Linked DNA regions of Homo sapiens: regions 2, 3 and 4 are each linked to region 1. Evidence: fine-mapped expression QTL. A gene starts in region 1. Each other region holds a variant in brackets. All regions are shown on one strand. Distances are between the middles of the regions.

Evidence for each region.
Region 2: its variant is fine-mapped to the expression of ALKBH5 in whole blood (TOPMed, PIP above 0.99).
Region 3: its variant is fine-mapped to the expression of ALKBH5 in hippocampus (GTEx, PIP 0.96).
Region 4: its variant is fine-mapped to the expression of ALKBH5 in whole blood (INTERVAL, PIP above 0.99). The same link has a PIP of 0.9 or more in monocytes.

The regions. Positions count from the first base shown.
Region 1 is chr17:18,180,813-18,188,594 of GRCh38, forward strand. It overlaps ALKBH5 (alkB homolog 5, RNA demethylase), which reads left to right and starts at 3,016. Exons shown (of 4, transcript NM_017758.4): 1 at 3,016-4,201. The coding sequence starts at 3,432. RefSeq lists silencers at 683-977, 3,114-3,413, 3,494-3,583, 3,742-3,893, 5,117-5,166 and enhancers at 2,404-2,603, 2,664-2,903, 3,011-3,848.
Region 2 is chr17:18,259,202-18,266,983 of GRCh38, forward strand. MIEF2 (mitochondrial elongation factor 2) reads left to right here and starts at 1,461. Exons shown (of 4, transcript NM_139162.4): 1 at 1,461-1,536; 2 at 3,513-3,666; 3 at 3,885-4,047; 4 at 4,509-7,351. The coding sequence starts at 3,520. The coding sequence ends at 5,563. RefSeq lists enhancers at 1,019-1,148, 1,770-2,390, 2,391-3,010. The variant T/A (reference allele first, on the strand shown) is at 2,816.
Region 3 is chr17:18,730,102-18,737,883 of GRCh38, forward strand. It overlaps the pseudogene TRIM16L. Among named protein-coding and RNA genes, the nearest start is that of FBXW10, 10 kb to the right of the region's middle. The variant G/C (reference allele first, on the strand shown) is at 3,018.
Region 4 is chr17:18,210,178-18,217,959 of GRCh38, forward strand. No RefSeq gene overlaps it. Among named protein-coding and RNA genes, the nearest start is that of LLGL1, 12 kb to the right of the region's middle. RefSeq lists an enhancer at 7,404-7,503. The variant CT/C (reference allele first, on the strand shown) is at 3,710.

The sequences.
Region 1 (7,782 bases):
ATGAGCAGCCTTCAAAGGTTTTCCAGAGGGGGAAGGGGAGGCACAACCTGCACAGACTGTACTTTGTTAAAGCCATTCTGACCACTGAACGGTGAGTGAATGTAGGAGTTGGGGAGACCAGAGGGGGCTGCTGCAGTGTTAGCTGGAAAACTTGTCATAGATTCTAGTGGTGGTGATGGGTGGGGAGAAGTTGGTAACTGGGGAGAGATTAGAAGGCCCAGCTGGCAGGACTAGGGGGTCAATCAGACCATCCTGGGATGGAGAGGATCAAGAAAGAGCCCCTGATACAAATGCCACAGGGCTGTCCTGCTTTTCACCACTGCCTTGGGTTGGCTTTCCCCAGAAGCAGACCCCAAGGTGAGGAAAGTAAGGAACTCACCAGAAAGAGTGTGGTGTCAATCAAGTTACCACTGTGCAGGGGCCATGCCTGGCAGCAGCTCACTTAACCCCTGGGGTTCTGCCTGCGGCGCTGATGCTCAGTATAGGGACCCCCAAAACAGAGCACAGTGGGCTCCAACATGAGGCAGCCCTGAGGCCTGCCCTCTGCCCCTCATTTCTCATTGTTGTGAGATCATACATGGTGTGTGTGAGGGGGAGGGGGTGTCAGGCTAATTCTTTTGCCCCAAAACCTTTTCCCTAGTCAAGCTGAACTATGAGGCTCAGGAAGGGATGATGTGGCAGAGTGAAAACGAGGGGGCCCTTTTGGCTTTCAGAATACAACTGGGGCCTCCCACACAGACTACAAGCGGCTTCTTGGAAGTAGATCATCCAGGTTGAGCCAAAATGTGAATCACCTCTTCTCTAGGTTGACACAGCCTCTCCCATAACGGACACTGCATTGGAAGCTTCCCTGTGTTCCTCCCTGACTGCTCTTGAGCTAGGACTCTCCCCTCTCGGAGCCCCGGTGAGGGACAGCACAGATTCTGGAACCAGGCAGCCTGGGTTTGAATCATCACTAGGCCACATACTCGCTGTATGGCCTTGGGCAAGTCATTTCACCTCTCTGGGCCTGTTTCCCTATATATACAATGGTAATAATAATAATGCCCTCCTCATTGAATTGTTTGGACGATTAATTGGGCTAGTATATGCACAGGTCCTGGCACATAGTAAAAACTTGATAAGCTTTTTAAAAAAATGTCCATTCCAGGCTGGGCGCAGTGGCTTACGCCTGTAATCCCAGCACTTTGGGAGGCCGAGGCAGGAGGATCTTGTGCCCAGTAGTTCCAAGACCAATTTGACAACATGGTGAAACCCCATCTCTGCTAAAAACAGAAAAATTAGCGGGGTGTGGTGGTACACGCCTCTACATAGTTCCAGCTACTCAGGAGGCTGAGGTGTGGGAGGATGTCTTGAACCCGGGAGGTCGAGATTGCAGTCAGCCAAGATCGTGCCACTGCACTTCAGCCTGGGCAACAGAGACTCTGTCAAAAAAGAACGAGGAGGAGGAGGGGAAGGGGGAGAGAGAGAGGGAGACGGGTGATAAGGAACTGGCATGGGCAACAGCCATGGCAAACAGCCTGGGCAAAGGCCAGGAGGTGAGACACAGTATGTTTGTAGACCTGGCTTACAGGATGAGGACCAGGCTGGGGCTCAGTGTACATGGAAAGAGAGGAGAGGAGGAGCCAAGGCCAGAAGAGTCTTGAAGAAAAGCTTTGAGTGCCAAATAAAGCAGGGGAACTTTATCCTGGGAGACATGGGAGATTTTCCAGCAGATCCCCCCCGACCCCCATTTGTTGGAGCCCTCCAGTGCATCCTGCACGGCTACGCCTTTTTGTTTTGTTTTGCAGCTCTGTCGCCCAGGCCGGAGTGCAGTGGCGCCAGCTCGGCTCTCTGCAGCCTCAATCCCCTGGGCTCAAGGGATCCTCCCACCTCAGCCTCCTGAGTAGCTAGGACCATAGGCGCGCGCCACCACGCCCAGTTCATTTTTAAAAATTTTATTGTAGAGATGGGGTTGCCATGTTGGCCAGGCTGGTCTCAAACTCCTGGGCTCAAGTGATCCGCCCGCCTTGGCCTCGCAAAGTGCTGGGATTACAGGCGTGAGGCCCCGCGCCCGGCAACGCCTTTGCTGACTGCTTCAAAACTTTTTTGAATTGACTGTAGTCATTATCTATAGCTTAGCCTTAGCCTTGCGCCCGTTCGTTTCCTGGAGTTTTCTTCCAGAGTCCCCGTAGGAGGTGCCCCCACGCCCATCTCCAGCACCAAGGAGGCTCGACGCCAACCCCAGCGCGCCCCCACGCTCGCCGTCACCGGGACGTGACTCGTGAAACGTCCGCTCCGGGCGGCGGCGGCAGCGGCGGCAGGCTGGCTTGTACCCCGACAACGCGCGTCTGGCTTCTGCCGGACGTTCCTATCTGGGTTCAGAACTGGGGCCGGGTGCTGCAGGTCCCGCAGTCTGAGAAGTTTTCGCGGGTTTCAGAAGTTTCCTTAGGCGTTCTAAGGGCTTTACTCAGGTGGAGTCTCCATTCAGGCACTTATTTAACCACCCATTTCTCCTTTAGGGGTCCTCGCTGCTCGCCCAGCCGCTAATTAAGTGACGGACACAGTAGCTAAGGAGACTGCCTGATTGACACGCATGATTACCAACCGACTTCCGGAAACTCCAGTCAGGGCCTGCCCGGCGCGTGGCCCACGGCCCAATTAAAGAAGTGGAAGCGCCAAAGGGGGAGGTAACGGAGCGGCCTACGTTGTGGCGGTTCCCTGGTGAATGCGCCCTGGGGTTGAGGCGTCTGCGGGCGTTCGGACGATGCCGTGACGCGGCACGGCGACACTGTTGGCAATATGAGCGCACCCCTGTAGAGGGAGCCCTTCGGTCCTGGAGGCGGCGCGGCGTGAAGACAGGTTGCTATTTGAGAGCGTTCCCTTGAAGCCCCTCAGAGAGTGGGGGAGGGGCGGCGGACGGCAAGCGGTTCCTGTCTGCGCTTGCGCCGGCGCCTCTGCCGACCCGGCCTGCACGCACGCGCATGCCCGTAGCGCGCGGAGCCGCGGTGGCCGGCAGCACTGCGCGTGCGCGGTGAGGAGCCCGCTAAGGAGCGGCGCTGGCGGACGTCGGGCTGGCTGCCCGTGACGTCGTGCGGAGAGCTTTAAAGTGCGGGCCGGGCCGGGCGTCCGAGGGTCTGGTCGGGAGTCGGGCCGCGTCTCCGCAGCAGCCCTCCGCGGCATGAGGCGCTGCCGGCGCCCCTGCCCCGCGGGACGTGGAGAAGGTGGAGGAGGAAGAAGCCCCGTTGTCGCCACCGTTGCATGACCCGCCGCTCCTGAGGCCCTACCCCACGCCCGGACCCTCGACGCCCCCCGCCGGGTCCCCCACTCACGCATGGGGGTTCGGCGCTAAGGACCCCCCTCCCTCCGGGGGCCCCGGGGCGCGTCCCCTTAGAGCCATGCCCGGCTGCCCCGCCCGCCCCGGAGGACCCTAGAGCAGCGTCGTGGGGGCCATGGCGGCCGCCAGCGGCTACACGGACCTGCGTGAGAAGCTCAAGTCCATGACGTCCCGGGACAACTATAAGGCGGGCAGCCGGGAGGCCGCCGCCGCTGCCGCAGCCGCCGTAGCCGCCGCAGCCGCAGCCGCCGCTGCCGCCGAACCTTACCCTGTGTCCGGGGCCAAGCGCAAGTATCAGGAGGACTCGGACCCCGAGCGCAGCGACTATGAGGAGCAGCAGCTGCAGAAGGAGGAGGAGGCGCGCAAGGTGAAGAGCGGCATCCGCCAGATGCGCCTCTTCAGCCAGGACGAGTGCGCCAAGATCGAGGCCCGCATTGACGAGGTGGTGTCCCGCGCTGAGAAGGGCCTGTACAACGAGCACACGGTGGACCGGGCCCCACTGCGCAACAAGTACTTCTTCGGCGAAGGCTACACTTACGGCGCCCAGCTGCAGAAGCGCGGGCCCGGCCAGGAGCGCCTCTACCCGCCGGGCGACGTGGACGAGATCCCCGAGTGGGTGCACCAGCTGGTGATCCAAAAGCTGGTGGAGCACCGCGTCATCCCCGAGGGCTTCGTCAACAGCGCCGTCATCAACGACTACCAGCCCGGCGGCTGCATCGTGTCTCACGTGGACCCCATCCACATCTTCGAGCGCCCCATCGTGTCCGTGTCCTTCTTTAGCGACTCTGCGCTGTGCTTCGGCTGCAAGTTCCAGTTCAAGCCTATTCGGGTGTCGGAACCAGTGCTTTCCCTGCCGGTGCGCAGGGGAAGCGTGACTGTGCTCAGGTAACCCACCCGGGTGGAGGGGGCGGCCCTGCGCCTGCTGCCTTAGCTACCCACCCTGGCCCAGAAAGCAGCAGCCCGTAGGAGTCTGCGTTTTTTACAGTTCTGACCAGTTCTTCTGTTTGTAGATTGTAGGGAGCGAGAGAAGGGTTTTGTGTTTAAGATACCTATAGCAAGAAAATAGGGAACCGATGTGGAAATCCTGTCCCCGAAGGCAGGTTTGACGGGATCACTGACTTGGCTGAGAATTCATCGAAAGCCATCTTTTCAGAAGGCTGTTCCCTTTGATTTTTTTTTTTCCCACCATCCATTTCTTAGCATAAGTCCCTTTGTGATTTTCCGGTTTTCCATTCTGGCCTTCCATTTACAAATCTATGCTTTAAAATTTTTTTTTTTTTTAATTTATCTAAAAGTCTTTCTTGTTCTGCCATTTTTGGATTCCTTAACAGAGAAAGTAGTCACAGGCAAAGGCCCCAGAGATTATTTAATTGAAGCACATTCTCCATTCCCAGGAGGGGGAGTGACTTCCCTGGAGTTGAACAGATTAGTGGTTGGGCCAGGCATACAGAGCAGCACACTCTTAAAATTCTTCCCTCCTGGCTGCAGAAGAGCCCATCAGTTCTTTGTAAGAACGTGTTACTTGTAGTCAGGACTGAATACAACAGAATACAGCTGGTCTCTTGACTGTTTGGCCTTACAGTTGCGTGAGCAGCAGAACTTAGGCTTTTGGCCTATATTCGGTTCCCAGATCCTGCTGAGAATTAGCTCAGTGCCCTGGCCCCCAGAGGAGATTGCCATTGGGAACACCTTTGCTGTTTATGTGAAGTGAAAATTTATTTGGAAGCGGCCTCCTTCCAGTCCTGAAAAAGGTAAACCTAGTAATGTAATTCAGTAATACCCAAAACATCTTAGGTTTAGACCGCAGCTGTTCTCAGAGCAGCTTGGTTGACCACCACCAAATACAAGGTTGAGGACACACTGGGCTTTTGTCGTGAGCAGCCCAGGTTCTGAAGTGAGTCAGTAGGGCCAAAGTCATGAGGAGAAGCAGGGTCCCTGGAGCCTTCTTGATATGAGATTAGGTCATCTGTTTCATTTGAGTCTAACAGCTGAGGCTGCTTCCATGTTGGGGATGGCAGCAGAGCCTTGTAATGTCCAAGACGTCCTGGTGGGAAGGTGGGAAGTCAGTAGTAGCAGAAGCGATACTTTAGCTCTTTAGGCATCTGAAACTTAGAGGACAGCCTAGCTGTCAGATGCCTTCTTATAATGGGCTTCTGAGCTTCTCAGATCTTCATGGCGCTCCTAGATGGATGTCTTGGCAAAATGCTTTAAGATGGGATTTCCAGGACACACCCTCTCCGGGTGCTTGCTGTGTAAGGCAGGTTGGGGTCTGACCCCATTGACGGGTTCTCAGTGCAAAAATTACCTCACACAAGGACCATTTGGTCTCTTAGCGGGATATTAATTTTCTGCGTAGTCATTGGCCCTCAGGGTGGTTGTCAGGAGGTCTAGTAGTGGTCTGGTGCTTAATGAGGGGATCACAAGGCATTTTTTTTTGGTTTTGGGACTACTACTCTCCTTAACACATGCCCACCCTGTATTTTAAGAACAGAAGTTTCGAGTTCTTAGTATGCAGGTCTGTTAGTGATCAGCAACAGGATTGCATCATCAGGAAAATTCTCTTCATCTTTTCCTCAGAATAGTAAAGTCCTAAAGCTTTCCCAGTCCCTGTCAACCCTTTCTGGATTCAGACTTGGCTGTGGTGTTAGTGTGGGAGGCTCAGCCATGTCCTGAAAAGTGCTGCCCCAGGCTTTGAATCCAGCTTTTCTCTCATTTGCTTTGGGATCTTGTAGGCGTTCTCTGAGCTGGCTTTCCCATCTGTAAGTGGGGATGATGCCAACTTCCAAAGCCTATTAGAATTAAATGTGGTGATTTGTTGTCTAAGATAGGGCCTGGCACAGGGTAGGTACTTAAATGGGTGCTTGCTTTCATATACAACCACTCAGTGATCCCCTGCTCTCTCACTGGGGAAGGAACTAGGGATTTGGTGGAGCCTGAAACATGACAGTTTCCCTTCGTGTAGTTCAAGCCCCATGGAGGCCTCAGACAGGAGGATAAGTTATAGCCCAGGAAGGTAACTGCAGAAGCACACTGAAGGGGGACATCTTTTCCACTTTGGAGTGTTGGAAGTTTAGGGGAGGAAATGAACTGGAATGTGAAAAGTGACTAGGAATGAGCCAAGCAGAGAAAGGTGGAGAAATACACAACAGCAGTGTCTTTGGCTGCAGTAGCAGGAGTAGCCATAGGTAAGAGGGGGTGGATGTTGATGGGAGGCAGATGGAGTTCATTAGTAGAGACTGTGGTTGAGGGTGCTCTGGTGAACTCTAGATCAGGGCTTCTCAACAGTGCTATTGTTATTCAGGGCTTGATAATGCTTCATTGTTGAGGCTGTTCGTGCATTGTAGACTGTTCAGCAGCATTCCTGGCTTCTATCTGCTAGGTGCCAATAGTGTTTTTTATGACAACCAGAAAGTGTCCAGACACTGCCAAATGCCGAGGCAGGGGAAGTGCAGAATCCTTAGTTGAGAGTCACTGCTCTAGGGTCTGGACCCTTCCACTAATTAAATCTTCTTGCACCTGCATACTTAGCTTACCTTGGTATGCAGGTGGGTGAACACCTGCCTATTAGTAGTGCCCGTCGTCAAATCCTGCATATAAACTGGTAAGAAGTGGTGCTTTCTCTTTTCCTGGTACAGATCCTAGCCCAGAGGTGATGAGCAGTAAAGCTGCAGATTGGAAGGGAGGGGCTGGTGAAAACAGTGGTGCGGTGCAGATGGGGAGGGATTCTAGTAGTAGGCATCTTAGACTTCAGTTGGTGTTGGTGGCAATGGTATCTGTACCCCTCTAAGACCGCATGGCAAGAATACAATTTTATATTTAATAGTGATCAGCATGGATGTTGGTGCGTCACAAACATTGACTCAGCAGTGTCTAAACCTGGGCATTTAGAACAAGGCCTCACAGAATCTTCTGGAAGTGCTTCAAACTCCTTTCCAAACCTAGTCGTCAGTTGTTTTTTGTAACCTTCCCATGTTAGGCCTGGGTGGATCCCCTCTTAAGGCTGTACTTTAGGGAAATATTTTTTATCTTCATATCACTTTATCTGTCATTCATTCTCCTATTCCCTGTTGGCTGCATGGGGCAGATTAAAACAGACTCTGATTGGACTAATTAGAATAATTACTTCAAGGCTAATTGCTTACTTGCTGCTATCTTTAATCACTGCTACGTGGTCTGTGGTGTGGTGGCCACATGCCCAGAGACCCAGGCCTAGGCCAGCCGTCTGGAAATGACTGTATCACCCAGGCACGGGGCATGCACTGGTGAGCTCAGCCTGTGACTCTTCCAGTTAACGGTTGGTATTGGGTGGAGTGGGCACCCCTGTCAGTTCTGGGATAGTCTGATCTTGTTCAGCTGGTTGAAAGCAAAATTTAGCTTTCTGGCTTAAAATAGTTGGGAAAGTAGGGCAGATAGGTCCTGGGCCACATCTCTTGTGTGGACTCTTCTGATTCCACTGGAGGGGGAGG
Region 2 (7,782 bases), 78 kb after region 1:
CTGCTGCCCAGGCTGGAGTGCAGTGGTGTGATCATAGCTCACTGCAGCCTCGAACTCCTGGGCTCAGCCTCCCGACTACCTGGGATTATAGGCGCAGGCCACCACACCTGGCTAAATTTATTTATTTTATTTATTTTTTATTTTTTTTGAGACAGAGTCTCGCTCTGTCGCCCAGGCTGGAGTGCAGTGGCGCAGTCTCGGCTCACTGCAACCTCCGCCTCCCGGGTTCACGCCATTCTCCTGCCTCAGCCTCCCGGGTAGCTGGGACTACAGGCACCCGCCACTACGCCCGGCTAATTTTTTTTTTTTTTTTTTTTGTATTTTTAGTAGAGACGGGGTTTCACCGTGTTAGCCAGGATGGTCTCGATCTTCTGACCTCGTGATCCAACCGCCTCGGCCTCCCAAAGTGCTGGGATTACAGGCGTGAGCCACCGCGCCCGGCCTTATTTATACTTTTTGTAGACACGGGGTGCTTGCTATGTTGCCCAGGCTGGTCTTGATCTCCTGGCCTCAAGTGATCCTCTGGTATCAGCTTCTCAGAGTGTTGGGATGACAGGCGTGAGCCACCGCGCCCTACCCAGTTTCCTCATTTGTAAAATACTTTCTAAGGTTGTCACCATGAGCAAATTAACAAAGAATGCACGTGTAGCTCGCAGCATACAGCAGGCGCTCAGTGAGTGGCAGGTTATTATTCCGTTTTGTTTTGTTTTGTGCGCCAGGTTATTATTCCCACTTAGTGTCAGCACCCCTGTGCTCGTACCCCCCTACAAAGGGAGGCTCCAGAAGAGAAGCATCCGTCTTGGTCCTTGCTGTTCAAGGGGGCTCGCCCTGGCTGACACATAGCAGGACCCCAATAAATGAGCCACAGCTGTTATATGCCCAACCATCCTTCGCAGGGGAGGAGGGGGTCTAGTGTCCCCATTTTACAGGAGAAAAACTGATGCCCAGGTGGAGAATGGCCCACACAAGCTCGCACAGAGCAGGTGGCAGGGGTAGGCGCTGTGCCCCTCAGGCCCACAGGTAAGAATGAGGCCACCAAGACACTCTCTCGCAGAGGTGACCTAAGAGGTTGGATGTGCCGGGCCTCTAGCCATGTGCAGCCTCTCTACCTGGTCCCCAGAAGGAACGGGGCCCAGACAGCTTCCTCCACACCGGAGGCTCACATTACAACGCACAGACGTCCTGGAGGGTCGCCTGTCACGTCACCTGTTCGCGGTCTCGGAATGCAGCCCTGCACCTTTAAATCCAGACTGCGTCAGGGAGTCCCGCCCCAGAGGGAGTGCGGCTGTCGGCTGGGGGGCGGGACCTGCCCTTCATTGGCTGAACCGCGCAGTATTTTGGCACCTGTGCGCTGGACTCGAGCGCTCCGATTGGAGTTAGGGCCTGCTTGTCTGCGTGCTGCGAAGTCCGCGGCTGCCCCCGGGGCCCTAGTCGTTGGGTTCCAGGGTCCTTCACGTTCCATTCCCAGGCTGGTCTGAGCTCCGGGGCCGTGGTCCCGCTGCCTCCTCCGGTCGTCGTGCGGAAGCTGCGACGCAGGTACAGCTGGAGCGCGGCGGGGCGGCCCCCAGGGTCACCGGGCTCGGGGCTTGGCGCGCGACGGAACGCAGATCGGGGGCGTGGCCCGCGATCACCGCTGGGGAAGGCGGGGAGGGGACCTTTGGGGGACCAAGGGCAGCGTTCGAATCCTAGCCCAGCCCCCTTCCCCTCTCGGTCTCTTGGTTTATCCTGCGAACGGGGCGTCACCCGCCCACCTAGGGCTGCTGCGCGGCCTGCTCCGCCCGGGCCCAGGGCAGGCAGGTTTGGCGGAGGAGGGAAGGCCAAACGGCCTCCAGGGCCCCGCTGCGCAAACTTGGGTTATTTTCAGCCACCCGTGCCCTTTCCTGCTTCTCGGAGCTGGAAGGCTGTGGACTGAGGCCTGCGCGACCCCGCCAGAGATGGGGCTGAGTCCCAATTTAGACAGGTTGGGAGTATTTAAAGCGCTTTACAGTTTGCAAAGTAGATTCCTGGTCTCTCTGGGGGCGGGTGGCAGTATTGATCCCCGAGTCACCGATGAGGAGATTGAAACCGGCCCTGGGGCCGTGGCGGGTCACCCGGTTGGCCTGGGATCGCCCCAGAGACCGTCTTATTTTTAGTCTGGGGCGAATGGGCGGGTGTACGGGGCTGAGTCACACAGCGCTTCAGGCTTCAGCTACTCCAGGCATCTGGTCACCTGGCAACTGGGCCCCTGGCACCCACACTCTGGCAGGGCAGGTAGAAGTCCTTGGTGCCCGGGCAGGCTGTGACCTCATGGTCATCTGCTCAGGCCTCCCCGGGAGAGTTCTGCTTGGTGTCTAACTGATGTCCTAAGGTCCCAGCCCTTCTCAGCTCCCAGGGCCTGAGGGCAGTGTCCCCCTCGCAGAACGTGAGGAATGTGGACTGGGCCCTAGGAGATCTTTGCCTCCACTTCCCAAGTGCTGGCCCCCACCCAGCCACACACTTCAAGGCTGCCCACATCTGCCCCTCACTGCTGCCTATGCCATCTTACAGGTGAGCAAACAGGCTGGGGCCCAGGCCTTCACCTTACTTTCTGTGTTGCTTGGCCTTCCGGCAGTTGAGAAGCATCACCCACCACTACCTACACATTGTCCCAAGACTGAGAGGCCCAGAGAGCCCCCTGTACAGAGGCACTGGGCAGCCCTTTCTGCCCTGCCAAAGGGGCTTCAACCCTGACAAGCACATCTGCATTGGCCTGCCTGGGCAGCTTGGGCCGTCTTACTCTGCCCGTGCTCTGACTTGGTAGCTCTGCCTCTTGGGCTACCCTGTCAAGATTTGGGGG[T/A]AACTGGTCCCAGTGGTCCCCCAGACTGGCTGGGGCCCCAAATTGTTGGTCTTCTCTGGACTTTGGGCTCTTCTGAAGAGGTTATCATAGAGGGCTGCTGTGCCCTCTGGGTAGGAACCTTCAGATGAGGCTGCTGCTGAGGACCTGGGCACCTGGCACAGGGAGAATCCGTCAGACTCTGTGGGCGGATGAGAGTCTGGAGGCCTTGCAGTCATGGGTTGGAGACCTTACCACTCACTTGTGAGCTGGCAGCCTGTAGCTCTGTAACATAGGGGTAGTGATGATGACACCCTGGTGATGTCAGAGGTCCTGGAGGGTGGGCTCCAGGGAGAGAGGCCCCTTCCTATACCTGCACAAGCCTCAGGGCCTTTGTGAGCTTCTTTCCAGGCAGCTTTGGGAGAAGGGGCTTGGCAGCTCCCTCATCTCCTCATGAGAGATGGGGGCTTGGGACCCCAAAACCCAAGCTCATATCCCATCCCTGCCCTTTCTCAGGTACTTTACGTGATTTCCCAGGGCCTCGGTGTCCTCCCCTGTGGATGGGTGGCCCCTTTCTCTGAGAAATTCTCAGAAAGCCCCCCTCATGGGCTCAGCTCTGTTACCCAGCATAAGGACAGCTAGAGCACCTGTCCACAGCAGCCCCTCTCCCAGCCTGGCCACCTGCACCTGAGCTGCCCCTTCACCCCTGGCTCTCTTACAGGCAGACCATGGCAGAGTTCTCCCAGAAACGGGGGAAGCGGCGTAGCGACGAAGGGCTGGGCAGCATGGTGGACTTCCTCCTGGCCAATGCCCGCCTGGTGCTGGGCGTGGGCGGGGCTGCTGTGCTGGGCATTGCCACCCTGGCCGTGAAGCGGGTAAGGCCAAGTGGGCGGGTCATGCCTGAAGCTCCTAGAGGAGGACAACAGGGTTGGGCTTTTCAGAGGGGCCCTGGGGAGGGGTGGGGACTGCCCAAGGCCTTCATGGGAGCCCAGGGCACCTGCTTCTCCACCCAGCACGCTGGTCTGCTTTGCCCTGGGCTTTGCTATGACTGCCCAGATTTCATATACACTGATCTGTGTGACTGTGCTTGCAGTTCATTGACAGGGCCACTAGCCCGCGGGATGAGGATGACACCAAGGCAGACAGCTGGAAGGAACTGAGCCTGCTCAAGGCCACACCACACCTGCAGCCCCGGCCTCCACCTGCTGCCCTTAGCCAGCCAGTGTTGCCCTTGGCCCCCTCGTCGTCTGCCCCAGGTGAGTGGCACTCCTTCCCCTCTTTTGGTGTCACATTCAAGAGACGCAGCCCAGGCTTTGCCCTGACTGACTGTGTGACCCTGCGCGAGTCCCTGCTTCTCTCTCGGTTGTGGGCTCCTCAGATATTTAATGGGGGTGGTGTTTCTTTGCCCTGTTCCTGGAGCAAGGTGGTAGCGTTGTGATGGTGGGGAGCTTTAGATGGGGAAACTGAGGTCCAGAGGGGCGTGACATACCTACCTACTCTGCATGAAGCTGTTGTCGCCAGGGTGTTGGACTCTGGGGCAATGAGAACTCGTCACCAAGAGCTCACTATATGTGAGGATCTGAACTGAGTGCCTTCTCAGGTGCCACTGCAGGTGAGAAAAGTGAGGCCCTGGGACATCACACAGCTAGTTCTCGGTGGCGTTTTCTTAACTAATCACAGGCTGTTCCGACATGTTCCCCGCCCCTTCACTCTGCAGAAGGGCCTGCAGAAACTGATCCTGAGGTGACACCACAGCTCAGCTCCCCAGCACCGCTGTGTCTGACACTGCAGGAGAGGCTGCTGGCCTTCGAGCGGGACCGTGTGACCATCCCAGCAGCCCAGGTGGCTTTGGCCAAACAGCTGGCTGGCGACATCGCCCTGGAGCTGCAGGCCTACTTTCGGAGCAAGTTCCCGGAACTGCCCTTTGGGGCATTCGTGCCTGGGGGGCCGCTCTACGACGGGCTGCAGGCGGGGGCTGCGGACCATGTGCGTCTCCTGGTGCCACTGGTGCTGGAGCCGGGCCTGTGGAGCCTGGTGCCGGGCGTGGACACTGTGGCGAGGGACCCTCGCTGCTGGGCCGTGCGCAGGACGCAGCTTGAGTTCTGCCCCCGTGGGAGCAGCCCCTGGGACCGCTTCCTGGTCGGGGGCTACCTCTCCTCCCGCGTCCTGCTGGAGCTACTCCGCAAGGCGCTGGCTGCTTCTGTCAACTGGCCGGCCATTGGCAGCCTTCTCGGGTGCCTGATCCGGCCCAGCATGGCCTCGGAGGAGCTGCTGCTCGAGGTGCAGCACGAACGCCTGGAGCTCACTGTGGCTGTGCTTGTGGCAGTCCCTGGGGTCGATGCTGACGACCGCCTCCTCTTGGCCTGGCCCCTGGAGGGGCTGGCGGGGAACCTCTGGCTGCAGGACCTGTATCCAGTGGAGGCTGCTAGGCTGCGAGCCCTGGACGACCATGACGCTGGGACTCGCCGGCGGCTGCTGCTGCTGCTGTGTGCTGTCTGCCGTGGTTGCTCGGCTCTGGGGCAGCTAGGCCGGGGTCACCTGACCCAGGTGGTCCTGCGTCTGGGGGAGGACAACGTGGATTGGACGGAGGAGGCCTTGGGTGAGCGCTTCCTGCAAGCCCTGGAGCTGCTCATCGGCAGCCTGGAGCAGGCCAGCCTGCCCTGCCACTTCAACCCCAGCGTGAACCTCTTCAGCAGCTTGCGTGAGGAGGAGATTGACGACATTGGCTATGCGCTATACAGTGGCCTACAGGAGCCCGAGGGGCTGCTCTAGGTGGGTGGAAACGGGTGGTTGCCATGTTTTCTAATGCTGGGGAGCTGCACCCACCTCCCTTCCAGGGATTTGAATAGTGGTTTTTCTCTAGCTTTTTGCCAGAACAAAGGAGGGTACATTACTTAAACCCAGGGCATCAGGATGTGCTTGGGCTATGGTGGCCATAAACCCTGAGCCCAGAGAGCTTGGGTCACTGTCACCTGAGTGCAGCTGGGCTGCCTCAGGCAGCTTGGAGTGCCAGCCATTCCTGCAAGCACCGTTTCAGCTCTTGGGGCCAACCCCAGGACCTTTGGCTCTGTCCATCACCAGCAACCAATCCACCAACAGAATGTGGTTTCTGCCATCCTGGGCAGAAGCTGAAGGCCAGCTTCACATTTCTGCTGAGAGAAGGTGACTTAACGCCTTTTCCGGCCCTAGCTCCAGGCGTTTTGAGGCGTCTGGTGCCTGATGGTAGGTATGGTGTGTTTGTTCTGTCCCCCAGGGGCTGGAGTCACCTGGTGCCCCTGAAGGACAGATTTTTGGCTGTTAAAGGATGGCATTTTCCTGCTGTCTTCTGTGCGTTTAGTTTTCTTGCTGAGCGGGAGCTCAGTATGACTTGCCACCCACCTGATACCTCAGGGCAAGGCCCTTTTTCCCTCCAGCCAGGTGAGTGTTTTCTTCAGGCAGCTGAGGGTCCTGGGGGAGCTGAGGCTCTGTGCTGCACCCCCAGCCCACAGCTGGGGCATCTCACTGGAGCTGTTCCAGGCCCCACTGGAGAGCAGAGGACCTGATCCCCCACTAGAGAGGTCCGGTGTGCACAGCCGGCCTCCCAGTGTGCCAAAATGAACTGCTCTCAGCTGATGGCTGTATTCTGACTTTGAAGCCTGTTAAGAGGTAGCAAGGGGGCTAGAGGAGGGAGATTCCACCTCCCCTCCCAAGTGACCCTCCTCCTGCCTCTGGTATCCTTCCTTTTGAAACGAAGCTCAGCTTCGAAGATGTGAACAAGAATAAAAGGAAAAAATTCTAATGTATATATAACTCAGGCTGGATAAGGGAGTCTTGGTGCTTTCATACGCAGCTGTTGAGGGTTTTCTGTAAGTCCTGTGGCTTGTCCTGGCACTTTGGCAAGAGTGCTTGAGGTCAATTGGAGGTGGTAGAGTTTACTTTAAAAAGTAGCATCTTGGCCGGGTGTGGTGGCTCGCATCTGTAATCCCAGCACATCGGGAGGCCGAGGCGGGCGGATCACGAGGTCAAGAGATCGAGACCATCCTGACCAACATGATGAAACCCCAACTCTACTAAAAAGACAAAAATTAGCTGGGCGTGGTGGCACGCACCTATAGTCCCAGCTACTCGGGAGGCCGAGGCAGGAGAATTGCTTGAACCCGGGAGGTAGAGGTTGCAATGAGCTGAAATTGCACCACTGCACTCCAGACTGGCGACAGAGCAAGACTCTGTCTCAAAAAAATAAATAAATAAGCATCTTGGCCCCGCGCTGTGGCTCACGCCTATAATCCCAGCACTTTGGGAAGCCGAGGCCGGTAGATCACCTGAGGTTGGGAATTCAAGACCAGGCTGACCAACGTGGAGAAACTCCATCTCTGGTAAAAATTCAAAAAAATTAGCTGGGCATGGTGGCACATGCCTGTAATCCCAGCTACTTGGGAGGCTGAGGCAGGAGAATTGCTTGAACCCGGGAGGCGGAGGTTGTGGTGAGCTGAGATCGTGCCAGTGCACTCCAGCCTAGGCAACAAGAGTGAAACTCTGTCTCAAAATAAAATAAAATAAAATAATAATAGTAATAATAAATTAGCATCTCAGTCTGTTTGGGCTGTGATAACAAAATGCCATAGACTAGGTGGCTTATAAACATCAGAAATTTATGTCTTACCATTTTGGAGGCTAGAAATCCAAGAGTGAGTCACAGATTCCATGTTTGGTTGAGAGCCCACATCCTGGTTCATAGGTGTCCCCATCTAGCTGTCCTCATGTGGAGGAAGGGGGGAAATGCTCTCCTAGGGTCTCTTATAAGGAAACTAAGCCCACCCATGGGGTGGGGGCCCACATTCATGATCGAATCACTTCCCAAAGACCCCATCTCCTGTTAGCAGTGCCTTGGGGGTTAGGATTTCAGCATACAAGTTGAAGGGGACACAGACTTTCTGTCCGTGACAAGTAAGGTAAGTGGAAGGAAAAGATGAAAAGCTTGGTGTTGCTTTAGTAATGGGAACCAGCCAGTT
Region 3 (7,782 bases), 550 kb after region 1:
GAACCTAGCAGGCAAGAGGTTGCAGTGAGCCAAGATCGCGCCATTGCACTCCAGCCTGGGTGACAAAGCAAGACTATGTCTCAAAAAAAAAAAAAAAAAAAAGATATTTATTTATTTTGGCAAAAGATAACATTTCCCCCCAAATTTTTGGTTAGGCATTCAAAACAAGATTTATTGAATAACTTATCCAAATAACTTATCCTTTCTCCCACTGATTTAAAATGCTACTTTTGTCTTGTACAGTATATAGCATTAAAATGTTGAATTACCCTTTTCTCTATCAATTCTCTGGTTTTGATTTCCATGGCTCTATCTAATCATTTTCATACAACTGTTTTCATTGCTATGTTTTCTGCTGTACCTGTTCTGCTCTTTAATGCTTCAGTTGCAGCTGAAGTTTGATACTGTGTTATATCTGAAAGCATCTTTCCTGATCACACGTTGTTTCAAAACTTACATGAAACTATGTGATTATCAGTGTGAAAACACTTTCCAAATACTAAAGCAAGGTACAAGAATTACAGAAATTTATGCATTGGATGAAACTGACAAGGAAGAGGCAGCACTCCTGCCTGAGAGCTCCTCCATTTTCCACCATGGCTTGTGTTTAAATTGTCAAAAAACAAGTACTGACGGCATGAACAAAGCAAGAATGTTCTTTATTTTTTGGTCCCCAGTCTGGACTGTGTATTGGAGCTGTTCATGGCCATCTAGTACATCTTGATTTTTAAAATCCCACGTTCTCACTTCTTTTTTTTAAAATCCCACTTATTCTGAGGGTCTAGCAGCTAGAGAAGTGCTATCTATTTTGTTAGACCCTGAGCTTGACACTTTACATGTACTTTCTTTGTGAAGGACACATTACCGTCAGCCCATTTTACAGATGCAAAAAGTGACTTAATGAGGAGAGAAGCCCGAGTTTAGAAATACAGAAACCACAGCAAGTTCTGCTGTTTCCTTTTCTGCAGGAGTACTGCAAGTTTAAGAACACTGAAGACATCACCTTCCCTAGTGTTTACATAGGGCTGAAGGATAAACTCTCGGGCATCCGCAAAGTTATCACGGAATCCACTGTACACTTAATCCAGTTGCTGGAGAACTATAAGAAAAAGCTCCAGGAGTTTTCCAAGGAAGGTGAGACACATTCTGGGCCATGGACTATAGTGAGTGTGTCTCTAGCAGTAGATGATAGGAAGGTGAGAGAGAGTCAGGGAAGGGAGGATGAAATCAGGGGAATGTCTCATTTTCTTTTTTTCTTTTTTTTCTTTTTTTTGTGAGACAGAGTCTTGCTCTGTCACCCAGGCTGGAGTGCAATGGCGCAATCTCAGCTCACTGCAACCTCTGCCTCCCGGGTTCAAGAGATTCTTCTTCCTCAGCCTCCCTAGTAGCTGAGATTACAGGCACCTGGCTAATTTTTGTATTTTTAGTAGAGACGGGGTTTCACCATGTTGGTCAGGCTGGTCTCGAACTCCTGACCTCAAATGATCCGCCCACCTCGGCCTCCCAAAGTGCTGGGATTACAGGTGTGAGCCACCGTGCCCAGCCAAATGTCTCATTTTCAAAGCCATGCTTCAGACAGGGTATGTTACTAATGGACTCTCATCTTGATGATTTTCTTTTACAATTGAGACCCAGAGAAGGACACTTAGTCATGCTTATATTATGCCATCGGCTGGCATTTCTGTGAGTAGCTTCCCAGGTTGCTGATGCCTATACTTTTAAGTTAAATCCAAGACGGTCTGGATCACTTTTTCAGTGGTTTATGCCTTACCTATGAAAGAAATGTAGTCTATTGAGCGTATTTCTGTGAAACATTACCAGGCTTCAGCCCCTTCTTTCCCCAGGAAGCCCAGGGAAGGGTGGCTGGGAAGTCCTGATTTGCAGATTCTCCTGACCACCTGGACAGGTGTGCATTCACAACTCTCTTGATTTTCTAGAGGAGTATGACATCAGAACTCAAGTGTCTGCCATTGTTCAGCGCAAATATTGGACTTCCAAACCTGAGCCCAGCACCAGGGAACAGTTCCTCCAATGTAAGTTGTGAACGGCACCCCCTTCTCCAGTTGTTGATATCAGTGCAGTGCTTTGCTAAGTCAGAACCGCCATCTCTCATCTAGGTTTCAGGTTCTTGCAACTTCATGTCTATCCCTAAATGATACATTTCTTAAAATTTAATTTAAACAATTTTTTTAACTTTTCATTTTGAAATAATATGAAACTTACAAAAATATTACGGAAATAAGACAAAGAATTCCCATATATCTTTCACTCAGTTTCTCCTAATGTTAACACGTTACATAACTACCATACATTGATCAAAACCAGGGAATAACATTGCTACAATGCTATCAACTAATCTACAGAATTTATTCAGCTTTCACCAAGTCTTTCATCAATGCCCTTTTTTTCTGGCCCAAAGTCCAATCCAAGGTCACAGATGTTTCCATGTCTTCTTAGTCCCCTTCAGTCTGGATCAGTCTTTCAATCCTTGTGTTTCATGACCATAGCACTTTGAAGAGTCCTGGCTAGTTACCAAGTGATTCATTTCTATGTATGACTTGGCCAGAATTGCATAACTCATTGACCTATCATTAAGTGTTATTGACTTGGTCCATTAGCATTTTTAAAACACTGCACAGTTGACCCTTGAACAATGTAGGGGTTGGGATACCAATCCCTCATATGGTTGAACATCCACGTGTAGCTTTTGATTCCTCAAGAACTTAACTAGTAATAGCCTTCTGTTAATTGACATAAACAGTCACTAAACACATATTTTGTATGTTTACATATATATACATGTAGACATATATATATGTATGTATGTATATTTTTTGAGACAGGGTCTCTGTTGCCCAGACTGGGGTACAGTGGCTTGATCATGGCTCACTGCAGGCTTGACCTCCCACACTCAAGCAGTCCTCCTCCCTCAGTCTCCTGAGTAGCTGGGACCACAGGCGCATGCCACCACATCTGGCTAATTAAAAAAAAAATTTTTAAACAATTGTAGAGATGGA[G/C]CCTTGCTGTGTTGCCCAGGCTGGTCTCAAACTATTGGCCTCAAGTGATTCTTCCATCTCAGCTTCCCAAAGTGTTGGCATAAGCCGCTGCACCAGTGAGAACTTTTTTAATTATGGGATTGTTTTAATAGCCTTTAATATGCTAATTCATTTGGCAAGTATATACTGAGCATCTTCTCTGAGCTAGAGAAGAATCCCATGCAAAATGTGAAGCTCATAGATTAGAGGGAGGACAAGCAGGAAACAAACACTCACATGAATATCTATTATTACAAATGGAGAGGGGTGCCAAGTTTAAAACGCCATGGTGCTCTGAGAGAGAGTGAGTTAGAGTCACAAAGGGCCTCTTCGAGGACATGAACTCTCAGTTGTAGCCTGAATGGATTGGTAGGAATCACCAGACTCAGAGTAGGGCATGATCACATCTCAGAGGGAACAGGCTGTACCAAAGGCTCAAAGAGGATTGAGTGTTGAGTAGGTCTGAGGTCAGCACGGTGGAAATGTAGTAATCAAGGGAGAGAGTCAGAGACACAGGAAAGGACCAGGGACGTGGGGCCTGGTAGGCCAGGGCAAGGGGTTGCTGCTTTATCATAAGAGCAAGGGGCACCATGAATAACTAGAATTATTAAGCTAGAATAACACGACTGGCCTCAGCCTACAGCTGGAAACAAGCAGCATGGCTCTGTTGTGGAGAAGGTCTTGAAGGGGGCAAGAGAGAACAGCTAACGACCAGTCAGAAACCCGCTGAACTAGTCTGAGTGAGATGAGTGGTGGCTTAGGTCGGGGGTAAAGCAGGGGGCTGGAGAGAAGTGGTAGAATCCGTAGGAGTTACTGCTTCCTGTGTGTGTAGTGAGGATAGGGGAAGAGGATGAGGGCAAAACAAATGTCAGAAATGACATAGAGCTTGACTTGAGCAATGGGGTGCATGAGACCCTATTATTCTTTGGGAGTGGGAGGAGAATATGAGGGCGTGTTTGAGAATTCTTCATGCTCCATTTGATCCATTCATTCATTTTTAAGATGTTGGTTAAATATTTTAAAAAATGAATGAATGGGCCGGGCGCGGTGGCTCACGCCTGTAATCCCAGCACTTTGGGAGGCCGAGGCGGGTGGATCATGAGGTCAGGAGATCGAGACCATCCTGGCTAACAAGGTGAAACCCCGTCTCTACTAAAAATACAAAAAATTAGCCGGGCGCGGTGGCGGGCGCCTGTAGTCCCAGCTACTCGGGAGGCTGAGGCAGGAGAATGGCGTGAACCCGGGAAGCGGAGCTTGCAGTGAGCCGAGATTGCGCCACTGCAGTCCGCAGTCCGGCCTGGGCAACAGAGCGAGACTCCGTCTCAAAAAAAAAAAAAAAAAATGAATGAATGGATCAAATGTGGGTATAGGAGTACCTGCTTCCCCAAACACTTGCCAACACTGGATAGGATAATGCCAGGCATTCAATACGTGTTTGTTGAATGAATGAATGAATGCATGAATGAGTAAATTAATATATTTCTTGATTCGGTTCATCAAATAACATCATCAATGTCAAGCAATTTGAGCTTCATAAGGGAAGGGAGTAGATGATTTGTGCTCTCTGTTTTCTGGTCTTCACTCACCTCATTTCCTAGGGAAACAGCAGCCTGGGTAAATAGAGAACAGAGAAATGGATGTTTTCTCATATGTGCTTTGGAGCCCAGCTGGGTTTAAAGCATTCTGTCTGAATCAGCTGTCAGTTCCTGAACCACTCTCCTGCCTTCTGTGTCTCCTCAGATGTGCATGACATCACGTTCGACCCGGACACAGCACACAAGTATCTCCGGCTGCAGGAGGAGAACCGCAAGGTCACCAACACCACGCCCTGGGAGCATCCCTACCCGGACCTCCCCAGCAGGTTCCTGCACTGGCGGCAGGTGCTGTCCCAGCAGAGTCTGTACCTGCACAGGTACTATTTTGAGGTGGAGATCTTCGGGGCAGGCACCTATGTTGGCCTGACCTGCAAAGGCATCGACCAGAAAGGGGAGGAGCGCAGCAGTTGCATTTCCGGAAACAACTTCTCCTGGAGCCTCCAATGGAACGGGAAGGAGTTCACGGCCTGGTACAGTGACATGGAGACCCCACTCAAAGCTGGCCCTTTCTGGAGGCTCGGGGTCTATATTGACTTCCCAGGAGGGATCCTTTCCTTCTATGGCGTAGAGTATGATTCCATGACTCTGGTTCACAAGTTTGCCTGCAAGTTTTCAGAACCAGTCTATGCTGCCTTCTGGCTTTCCAAGAAGGAAAACGCCATCCGGATTGTAGATCTGGGAGAGGAACCCGAGAAGCCAGCACCGTCCTTGGTGGGGACTGCTCCCTAGACTCCAGGAGCCATATCCCAGACCTTTGCCAGCTACAGTGATGGGATTTGCATTTTAGGGTGATTTGGGGGCAAAAATAACTGCTGATGGTAGCTGGCTTTTGAAATCCTATGGGGTCTCTGAATGAAAACATTCTCCAGCTGCTCTCTTTTGCTCCATATGGTGCTGTTCTCTATGTGTTTGCAGTAATTCTTTTTTTTTTTTTTTTTGAGACGGAGTCTCGCACTGTTGCCCAGGCTGGAGTGCAGTGGCGTGATCTTGGCTCACTGCAAGCTCCGCCTCCCGAGTTCAAGCAATTCTCCTGCCTCAGCCTCCCGAGTAGCTGGGATTACAGGTGCCTGCCACCACACCCAGCTAACGTTTTGTATTTTTAGTAGAGATGGGGTTTCACCATGTTGGCCAGGCAGATCTCAAACTTCTGACCTCGTGATGCACTCACCTCGGCCTCCCAAAGTGCTGGGATTACAGGCGTGAGCCACTGCGCCCTGCCTGTTTGTAGTAATTTTTAGGCACCAAATCTCCCTCATCTTCTAGTGCCATTCTCCTCTCTGTTCAGGTAAATGTCACACTGTGCCCAGAATGGATGACCAGGAACCTTCAAGAGTGGCTGAAAAGATTGCAGAGTTATCATAATAAATTGCTAACTTGCGTATTTCCTATGTGCCAGATACCGTTCTTGTGCTTCCTGCACATTAACTCAGTCCTCACAGAACACCCATTGGGTAGATGCTTATATCATCCTTATTTTGCAGATGGAGAAACTGCGGTCCGGGGCAGTTAGCTAATTTGTTCAAGGTCACTCTGGTCACATGGTGAGTGAGGGGCAGAGCTGGGATTCAAGTGTGGGTAGAATGACACTGGACTTTTAACCACCACATCATATTGCCTTCCTTTATTTTATTTTATTTTATTTTATTTTTTTTGAGACGGAGTCTCGCTCTGTTGCGCAGGCTGGAGTGCAGTGGCACAATCTCGGCTCACTGCAAGCTCCGCCTCCCAGGTTCACGCCATTCTCCTGCCTCAGCCTCCCGAGTAGCTGGGACTACAGGCACCCGCCACCAAGCCCGGCTAATTTTTTGTATTTTTAGTAGAGACGGGGTTTCACCGTGTTAGCCAGAATGATCTCGATCTCCTGACCTCGTGATCCACCCGCCTCGGCCTCCCAAAGTGCTGGGATTACAGGCGTGAGCCACCGCACCCGGCCACCTTCCTTATTAGATCATGGACATTGTATAAAAGGGAATAAAATGCATAGCAGAGAAACTTCTTGAAGTTTGCAAATCCACACACAACATCTGACTCAGCCATCCTGCCTTGCACTGGCTCACTGCCTCACTGCCTCACACAGCAGTCCTTTCTATTTGGGGACAGCAAGGATTAGAAGAAATGTCTTAACAGTGTCTGAGTTTTAGTCCCTGTGACCTCTGGAAAGGGGCCCTACTCCTCTCCTCTAAAGTAACCTGGAATATGTGGACTTGTCTGATTTCTCATTCAAAGAATGGTTCTTTTAAGAACTGTCACGTAATACCCACGCCCCAGGTGTTCTTGTTTTCATATGAAATTTTCCACCTTCCTTTATGGTTCTCAGTCCTTTCCCCCTGATTATTTCATTCTTCTTTTGACAGATAAGCTTCCTAAGATTAATCACAAGCATTCATCAAGCCTTTAGGCAAATGGCAAACTGTCTTTAAATGGGTTTCTGAAGCTATAACCTGAAGTCTCTGGTGGGATTCACCAGAAATATAAATTTTGAGTCTGTTCCTGTGACCTTTGTCAAGGCAAATCTTTTTTTCTCCAATCAGTCTGATTGGCCTGTCTCAAGAGTATATTACTTTAGCATAACTTGACTTGTTACCTATATTTGTATCTAAGGATGTTTACAGTATAGGATTTAAAATGATTTTACTTTAATTTCATCACATCATTGCTTTATGCTGAGATACTTGAGATTCATGATTCCTTATCCAGTATATTCGCTCTCCTTCCTAGCTTAGTGTCACCTGCACAATTAGTAACCCTTCCTTTTTTTGAGACGGAGTCTCGCTTTGTCCCCCAGGCTGGAGTGCAATGGCACGATCTCGGCTCACTGCAAGCTCCGCCTCCTGGGTTCACACCATTCTCCTGCCTCAGCTTCCCGAGTAGCTGGGACTACAGGTGCCCACCACCACGCCCGGCTAATTTTTTGTATTTTTAGTAGAGGCGGGGTTTCACCATGTTAGCCAGGATGGTCTCGATCTCCTGACCTTGTGATCTGCCTGTCTCGGCCTCCCAAAGTGCTGGGATTACAGGCGTGAGCCACCCCGCCCGGCCATAACCCTTTCTTCTTAAGTCTTATCCTTGTTGATAAATATATCGAGGAGATTAGGACCAAATCTAGAATCTTGTGGCACTCAGTCAGTAGCTTCTAGGTTTAATTATATACA
Region 4 (7,782 bases), 29 kb after region 1:
CCAAGGAGGGTGAACTTCATAAACCACAATGTCCAGGTGCCCAGGGACCACACCTTCTGGAGTTCTGGAAGTCCCTCTTTTAGATATGATCACTGAGAGGCTGGTGCTGGTGAAGGGGGAGATGGCAGGCACAAAAGCAAGGGAGAACCTGGCTTTTGTGGAAAATATGCGAGTGATTTTGCTCATTAAACAAATACTTGGCCAGGCACGGTGGATCACCTGAGCTCAGGAGTTCAAGACCAGCATGGGCAACTTGGCAAAACCCCATCTCTACTAAAAATACAAAAATTTAGCCAGGTGCGTTTAGCTGTGGTCTCAGCTACTAGTGAGACTGAGACAGACAAGAATTGCTTGAGCCTGGGAGGCACAGGTTGCAGTAAGCCGAGATTGTGCCATTGCACTCCAACCTGGGCAACAGAGCAAGACCTTGTCTCAAAAAAACAAAAAAAAAAATTCTTGAGTTCCTATTGTATACCAAGCCACACTGGGACCCCAATAGTGAGCAAAACTCTGGTCCCTCCTTTCAAGATGCTCATGATAGTGTGGAGTGCAGGTACTGGCATGAAGCAGATGTTTTTCAATGGGTAAGGCTGGGGCCCAGAGGGCTTTAGTCCCTCCAGACTTCAGACCTGGCTCCCTATGCCTGGTAAAGGGCTTCTATCTAGAGTCTCTTACTCTGTTCTAGTGCTCAGAGCTAGTCTGCTTGGCCAAATTCTTGCTGTGGAAACTTGGATAAGCTGCTTACCTCCACATTTACCAGAGAAGAGAGACTCCAGAGTGGGGCAAGTAACTGGCCCAGGCTTGGTCTAAAAACTAGTGCGAGGGTCTGAAGAGAGAGGGGCCAGAGTCTCAAGTGTGGTCTGGGGCTAGTTGGGCCTGGAGGGGTAGACACTGGGCTAGGCAGAGTGGACCTTGGATCCCCTGGAGAAGGAAACACCGGATCTGAGAGAAAGTGACTTGCAGAATGTCATCCAGAGTATAAATGGCAGAAGTAAGCATCCCCCACTCCATGCCTGAGCTTCTGACTCTTGGGGCATGGGATAGGGGCTCAGAGAAGGGCTGGGGGAGTGCGAGGAACCGTCTTTGTGGAGGACCCTATTTTCCATTGCCATTAAAAAGTCAGACTTCTGGCCAGGCGCAGTGGCTCATGCCTATAATCCCAGCACTTTGGGAGGCCGAGGTGGGCAGATCACGAGGTCAGGAGTTTGAGACCAGCCTGGCCAACATAGTGGAACCCCGTCTCTACTAAAAATACAAAAAATTAGCTGGGCATGGTGGCGGGCCCCTGTAATCCCAGCTACTTGGGAGGCTGAGGCAGGAGAATCACTTGAAGCCAGGAGGCGAAGGTTGCAGCGAGCCGAGATCGTGCCACTGCACTCCAGCCCAGCGGACAGTGCGAAACTCCATCTCAAAAAAAAAAAAAAAAAAAAAAAACTCCCAGCCTGACCAACATGGTGAAACTCCATCTCTACTGAAAATACAAAAATTAGCTGGGCGTAGTGCTGGGCGCCTGTAATCTCAGCTACTCAGGAGGCTGAGGCAGGAGAATCGCTTGAACCCGGGAGGCGGAGGTTGCGGTGAGCCGAGATCGTGCCACTGGACTCCAGCCTGGGCGACAGCAAGACTCAGTCTCAAAAAAACAAAAAAAAAAAAAAGTCAGACTCAGCCAGGAACAGTGGCTCATACCTGTAGTCCCAGCATTTTGGGAGGCCAAGATGGATGAGCCCAGGAGTTTGAGACCAGCCTGGGCAACACAGCAAAACCCTGTCTCTACAAAAATACAAAAATTAGCCAGGTGTGGTTGTATGCACCTGTAGTCCCAGCTACTTCAGAAGCTGAGGTGGGAGATCACTTGAGCCCAGGAGGTCAAGGCTGTAGTAAGCCGAGATCGCGTCACTGCACTCCAGCCTGGGTGACCCTGTCTCAAAAAAAAAAAAAAAGATTCGGGCCGGGCGTGGTGGCTCATGCCTGTAATCCCAGCACTTTGGGAGGCTGAGGCAGGCGGATCATGAGGTCAGGAGTTCGAGACCAGCCTGGCCAACATGGTGAAACTCTTTCTCTACTAAAAATACAAAAATCAGCTGGGCACGGTGGTGCGTGCCTGTAATCCCAGCTACTCAGGAGGCTGAGACAGGAGAATTGCTTGAACCTGGGAGGCGGAGGTTGCAGTGAGCTGAGATCACGCCACTGCACTCCAACCTGGATGACACAGCGAGACTCTGTCTCAAAAAAAAAAAAAAGGATTCAGCCTCTTCCCAATCCCTGGGTGAAAAAGGCCCTTCACCCTGTAGTATGGAGAGATAGGAGGACTAGAGGAGGGGGCTTTGGCCCTAGCAGTTCCTGCTGTCTCTCTACCTGTACAGTAGCACTCTATCTCTGTAACATAATCCTCTGAGTAGTCCCTAGAACTCTACATCTGATTCTGGATCTGCCTGATCTGATTCTGGATCTGCCTGTTCCCAGCCATCTCCTAGGGCCTCAGGCCAGGTGCTGAGTCCCATCAACCCCTGTCCCTAGCCCAGTCTTCTACACAGTAGATGCTCTAACAGCTGGTGCCATCCCTCACCCCGCTAGGACCCCATCCCATTCCTCCAACCCTTTTGTGTGGAAGGGGAAACTGAGGCCCAGAGAAGTTGACTGGCCAGAGGTCACGTTCACGCATTCAAAAAATAGTGTCTGGCCAGGCGCAGTGGCTCATGCCTGTAATCCCAGCATTTTGGGAGGCCAAGGCAGGTGGATCACTTGAGGTCAGGAGTTTGAGACCAGCCTGGCTAACATAGTGAAACCCCATCTCTACTAAAAATACAAAAATTAGCTGGGCATGGTGGTGCGTACCCATAGTCCCAGATAACTCGGGAGGCTGAGGTGGGAGAATCACTTGAACCCAGGAGGTGGAGGTTGCAGTGAGCTGAGATTGCGCAGTGCTGGAGATACAAGACAGACCTAGTATATGATGTCATATACGCATAAAGTTATAAATTTTACTGATGTGAAGTATAGCATATAAATATTATTTTTGAGATGGAGTCTTGTACTGTTGCCCAGGCTGGAGTGCAGTGAGTGGAGTGATCTCCACTCACTGCAACCTCCGCCTCCCGGGTTCAAGCGATTCTCCTGTCTCAGCCTCCCGAATAGCTGGGATTACAGGCACCTGCCACCATGCCCAGCTAATTTTTTGTATTTTCAGTAGAGATGGGGTTTCACTATGTTGGCCAGGCTAGTCTTGAACTCCTGACCTCATGATCCACCCACCTCGGCCTCCCAAAGTGCTGGGATTACAGGCGTGAGCCACTGTGCCTGGCCAGCATTTAAATTATTAAAACATATATATTCTTATAAATTCCATATAACCAATCTTTTCTCACAGAAATCTATTTTAGTTTTTTTGCTGAATTACTGTATTTGTAGTCTGCTTGTGCTTATAATTCAGCCATGATATGACAAAGGGACTTGCATCATACCTGCTTGTAATAGTTTCCCGTGGCTGCCATAACAAGTCACCACAACCCTGGTGGCTTAAAACGACAAATTTATTTCTCTCAAATTCTGGGAAACTCAACATCACTGGGCTTGCCTGTCTAGTGGAAAACCTGTTCTTTGCCTCTGACAGCTTCTGTTAGCTGTTAACATTCCTTGACTTGGGAACGGGCAGATTCACGTCTCTGCCTCCATGGTCACATGGCCTCCTCCTCTGTGTACCACATCTCCT[CT/C]TTTTTTTTTTTTTTTTTTTTTTAAAGACAGAGTCTCACTGTCACCCAGGCTGGAGTGCAATGGCTGGATCACAGCTCACTGCAGCCTTGACCTGCCAGGTTCAAGCAATCTTCCTGCCTTGGCCTCTCAAACTGCTGGGATAACAGGTGTGAGCCACTGTGCCTGGCTTCTGCCTCTCTCCTAATAGGACATTCACGATTGGATTTAGGGCCCCTCTGTCACCCAGGCTGGAGTGCAGTAACATGATCTCGACTCACTGCAGCCTCAAACTCCTGGGCTCAAGTGACCCTCCTGCCTCAGCCTCCCAACCTCAGGTGTGCACACACCACTACACCCTGCTAATTTCTTTAAAAAAATTTTGGGCCAGGCGCGGAGGCTCACACCTGTAATACCAGCACTTTGGGAGGTGGAGGCGGGCAGATCACGAGGTCAGGAGATCAAGACTATCCTGGCTAACATGGTGAAAACCTGTCTCTACTAAAAAATACAAAAAATTAGCCAGGCATGGTGGCGGGTGCCTGTAGTCCCAGCTACTCGGGAGGCTGAGGCAGGAGAATGGCGTGAACCCAGGAGGTGGAACTTGCAGTGAGCTGAGATGCGCCACTGCACTCCAGCCTGGGCGACAGAGCAAGACTCCGTCTCAAAAAAAAAAAAAAAAAAAAAAAATTTGTAGGCCGGGCGTGGTGGCTCACACCTGTAATCCCAGCACTTTGGGAGACCAAGGTGGGTGGATCACCTGAGGTCAGGAGTTCGAGACCAGCCTGCCCAACGTGGCGAAACCCCATCTCTACTAAAAAATACAAAAAGTTAGCCAGGCTTGGTGGGCGCCTGTAATCCCAGCTACTTGGGAGGCTGAGGCAGGAGAATCGCTTGAACCTGGGAGGCGGAGGTTGCAGTGGGCCAAGATCGTGCCACTGCACTCCAGCCTGGGCGACAAGAGCAAAACTCTGTCCTCAAAAAAAAATTTTTTTTTTGTAGAAGACTTCACACTGTGTTGCCCAGGCTAGTCTCAAACTCCCAGCCTCAAGTGATCCTCCTGCCTTGTCCTCCCAAAGCACTGAGCCACTGCACCCGGTCCCCTATGTAATGATGTTTAATTATATTCGAAAGACCCTTTTTCCTTATGAGGTGACATTCACAGGTCCCAGGGATAATGACCCGATATTTGTGGAGGCCATGGATCAGCCCCTACATGCCCTTCTCCCAGTAAAGTTATTGCCATTAAATCTGATATATCATCTGCTTTCTCATCCTCAAATATTAGTTGGATTAAAATTTCTCAGCTATAGCAGTACTTTTAAATTTAATCTGAATCATTAATATTTTCCTTCACTTTCTCTTTTTTTTGAGACGGAGTCTTGCTCTGCCGCCCAGGCTGGAGTACGGTGGCATGATCTCGGCTCTCTGCAAGCTCTGCCTCCCGAGTTCATGCCATTCTCCTGCCTCAGCCTCCTGAGTAGCTGGGACTACCCGCCACCACGCCTGGCTAATTTTTTGTATTTTTTAGTAGAGACAGGGTTTCACCGTGTTAGCCAGGATGGTCTTGATCTCCTGACCTGGTGATCTGCCCACCTCGGCCTCTCAAAGTGCTGGGATTACAGGCGTGAACCACCACATCCGGCCCTCTTCATCACTTTCTTAAATCTAGACCTGTGTTCTTCAGTACAGCAGCCACTGATACTTGGCTATTGAGTATTTGAAATGTGGCTAGTTTGAATTGAAATGTGCTTTTAGTGTAAAATACCAGAATTTGAAGAGTTAGTATGAAAAAAACAATGTAAATCATTAAGAACTTTATATTGATTACTTGTTGAAGATACTATTTTGAGCTGGGCATGGTGGCCTACGTATAATCCCATCACTTTGGGAAGCTATGGTGGATGGATTACTTGAAGTCAGGAGTTTGAGAGCAGCCTGACCAAATGGCAAAACCCCGTCTCTACTAAAAACACAAAAATTAGGTGTGGTGGCGCTCGCCTGTAATCCCAGCTACTTGGGAGGCTGAGGCAGGCTTGCACCTAGGAGGCAGAGATTGCAGCGAGCCAAGATCGTGCCACTACAGCCTGGGTGAGAGAGCGAGACTTTGTCTCAAAACCCCCCCAAAAAAGAAGAAAAAAAAAACTATTTTGGACATATGTTAAATTTGGACATACTGGGTTAAATAAAATAGGCTGAGGCAGGAGAATTGCTTGAACCTGGGAGGCGGAGGTTGCAGTGAGCCCGAGACCGTGCCATTGCACTCCAGCCTGGGCAACAGAGCCAGACTCTGTCTCAAAAAAAAAAAAAAAAAAAAGCTATTTAAATTAATTTCACCTGTTTTCTGTTACTGTTATATCTGGGTACTCAATAATGAAAATTACATATGTGTCTTGCATTATATTTCTGTTGGATGGTACTGGTCTAGAAAACTATAGAGCTGGGCACAGCAGCACACCCTGTATTCCCAGCTACTCAGGAGGCTAAGCGGGAGGATTGCTTAAGTCCAGGGGTTATCATGGCTGATTGCAGCTGATCAAGGTAAGGTCACTGAACATCGAGCTGTGAAGAAATGTGCAGTAACACCCCAATATATAGTGTTTCCACCATACAGATACAATAGATGTAATCCAAGAGTACAGATAATAGGAAAATGTGGCAAAATAAGTAGGAAATGCTTAGTTTTTAATATTACCCTTAGTTTTTAGTGTAATTTTAATTTTATATAATTAATTTTTAATGACTTTAACAACTGACTCACAAAAGTTCTTGAAAATTTGCCATTTGGCTCTTGCAGAGGGCTCCAGCACACCACTAGATTCCCATAGAGAGTTTGAGCAGAGGAGTGATGTGAACAGATGTAGGATCACTGGTGCTGCTGTGCAGAGGACTGTCAAAATCAATAAGAAAACCACTTTCTTAGCTGAGTGCAGTGGCTCACGCCTGTAGTTCCAGCACTTTGGGAGGCTGAGGTGGGTGGATCACCTGAGGTCAGGAGTTCAAAACTAGCCTGGCCAACATGGTGAAACCCTGTGTCTACTGAAAATACAAAAATTAGCCAGCCTGGTGGTGGGCGCCTGTAATCCCAGCTGCTCGGAAGGCTGAGGCAGGAGAATTGTTTGAACCCGGGAGGCAGAGGTTGCAGTGAGCTGTGATCGTGCCATTGCACTCCAGCCTGGACGACAAGAGTGAAACTGTCTAAAAGAGAGAGGAGAGAGAAAGAGGAGAGAGAGAGAAAAGAAGAAAGAAAAGAAGAGAAAGAGAAAGAAAAGAAAAGGAAAGAAAGGAAGGCCTGGCACGGTGGCTTACACCTGTAATCCCAGCACTTTGGGAGACCGAGGTGGGCGGATCACGAGGTCAAGATATCGAGACCATCCTGGCCAACCTGGTGAAACCCTGTCTCTACTAAAAATACAAAAAAAATTAGCCGGGCATGGTGGCAGGCACCTGTAATCCCAGCTACTTGGGAAGCTGAGGCAGGAGAATCGCTTGAACCCGGGAGGCGGAGGTTGCAGTGAGCCGAGATCGCGCCATTGCACTCCAGCCTGGGTGACAAAGTGAGACTCCGTCCCCCCCCCCAAAAAAAAAAAAAAGAAAGAAAAGAAAAAAGAAAATCCACTGTCTTTGTGAGAGATGGAAAACTAAGGGCTCGGGCAGTGTCAGGGCTGGGGTCCTCCAGTTAGGTGTGAGGCGCTTGCTGCCGCAGTTCCTCCTGTGTCCACAGTGTGGCAGCATAGCCTGAGTGATGGTGCTTCAGAGTAGAGGGCAAGGGCCAGCAGCTGTCCCTTGGTTTGGATGGGGAACTGAGGTCCCCAGAGACCCCCGAACCTGCCAGAGGTTACTCAGAGCCAATAACTTAGGTTCCCCACTGCTTCTGCCCTTCTCAGCCAGGGATCTCAGGGCTAGTAGGGTTTTCCTCCCACTTCCTTACTAATCCTAGTAGGTGTGGAGGGGCACTGGGACCTGTGGGTCAAGCAGATGCCATCAGGTCCACCCCCAGGCCACACATAACAGCAGTCCCAGCCTGGGCCCCACGCTACCTCTCTTGGCCCCAGCTCCTTGGAGAGTTCTAGACATCTTTGCAAGTGCCAGTAC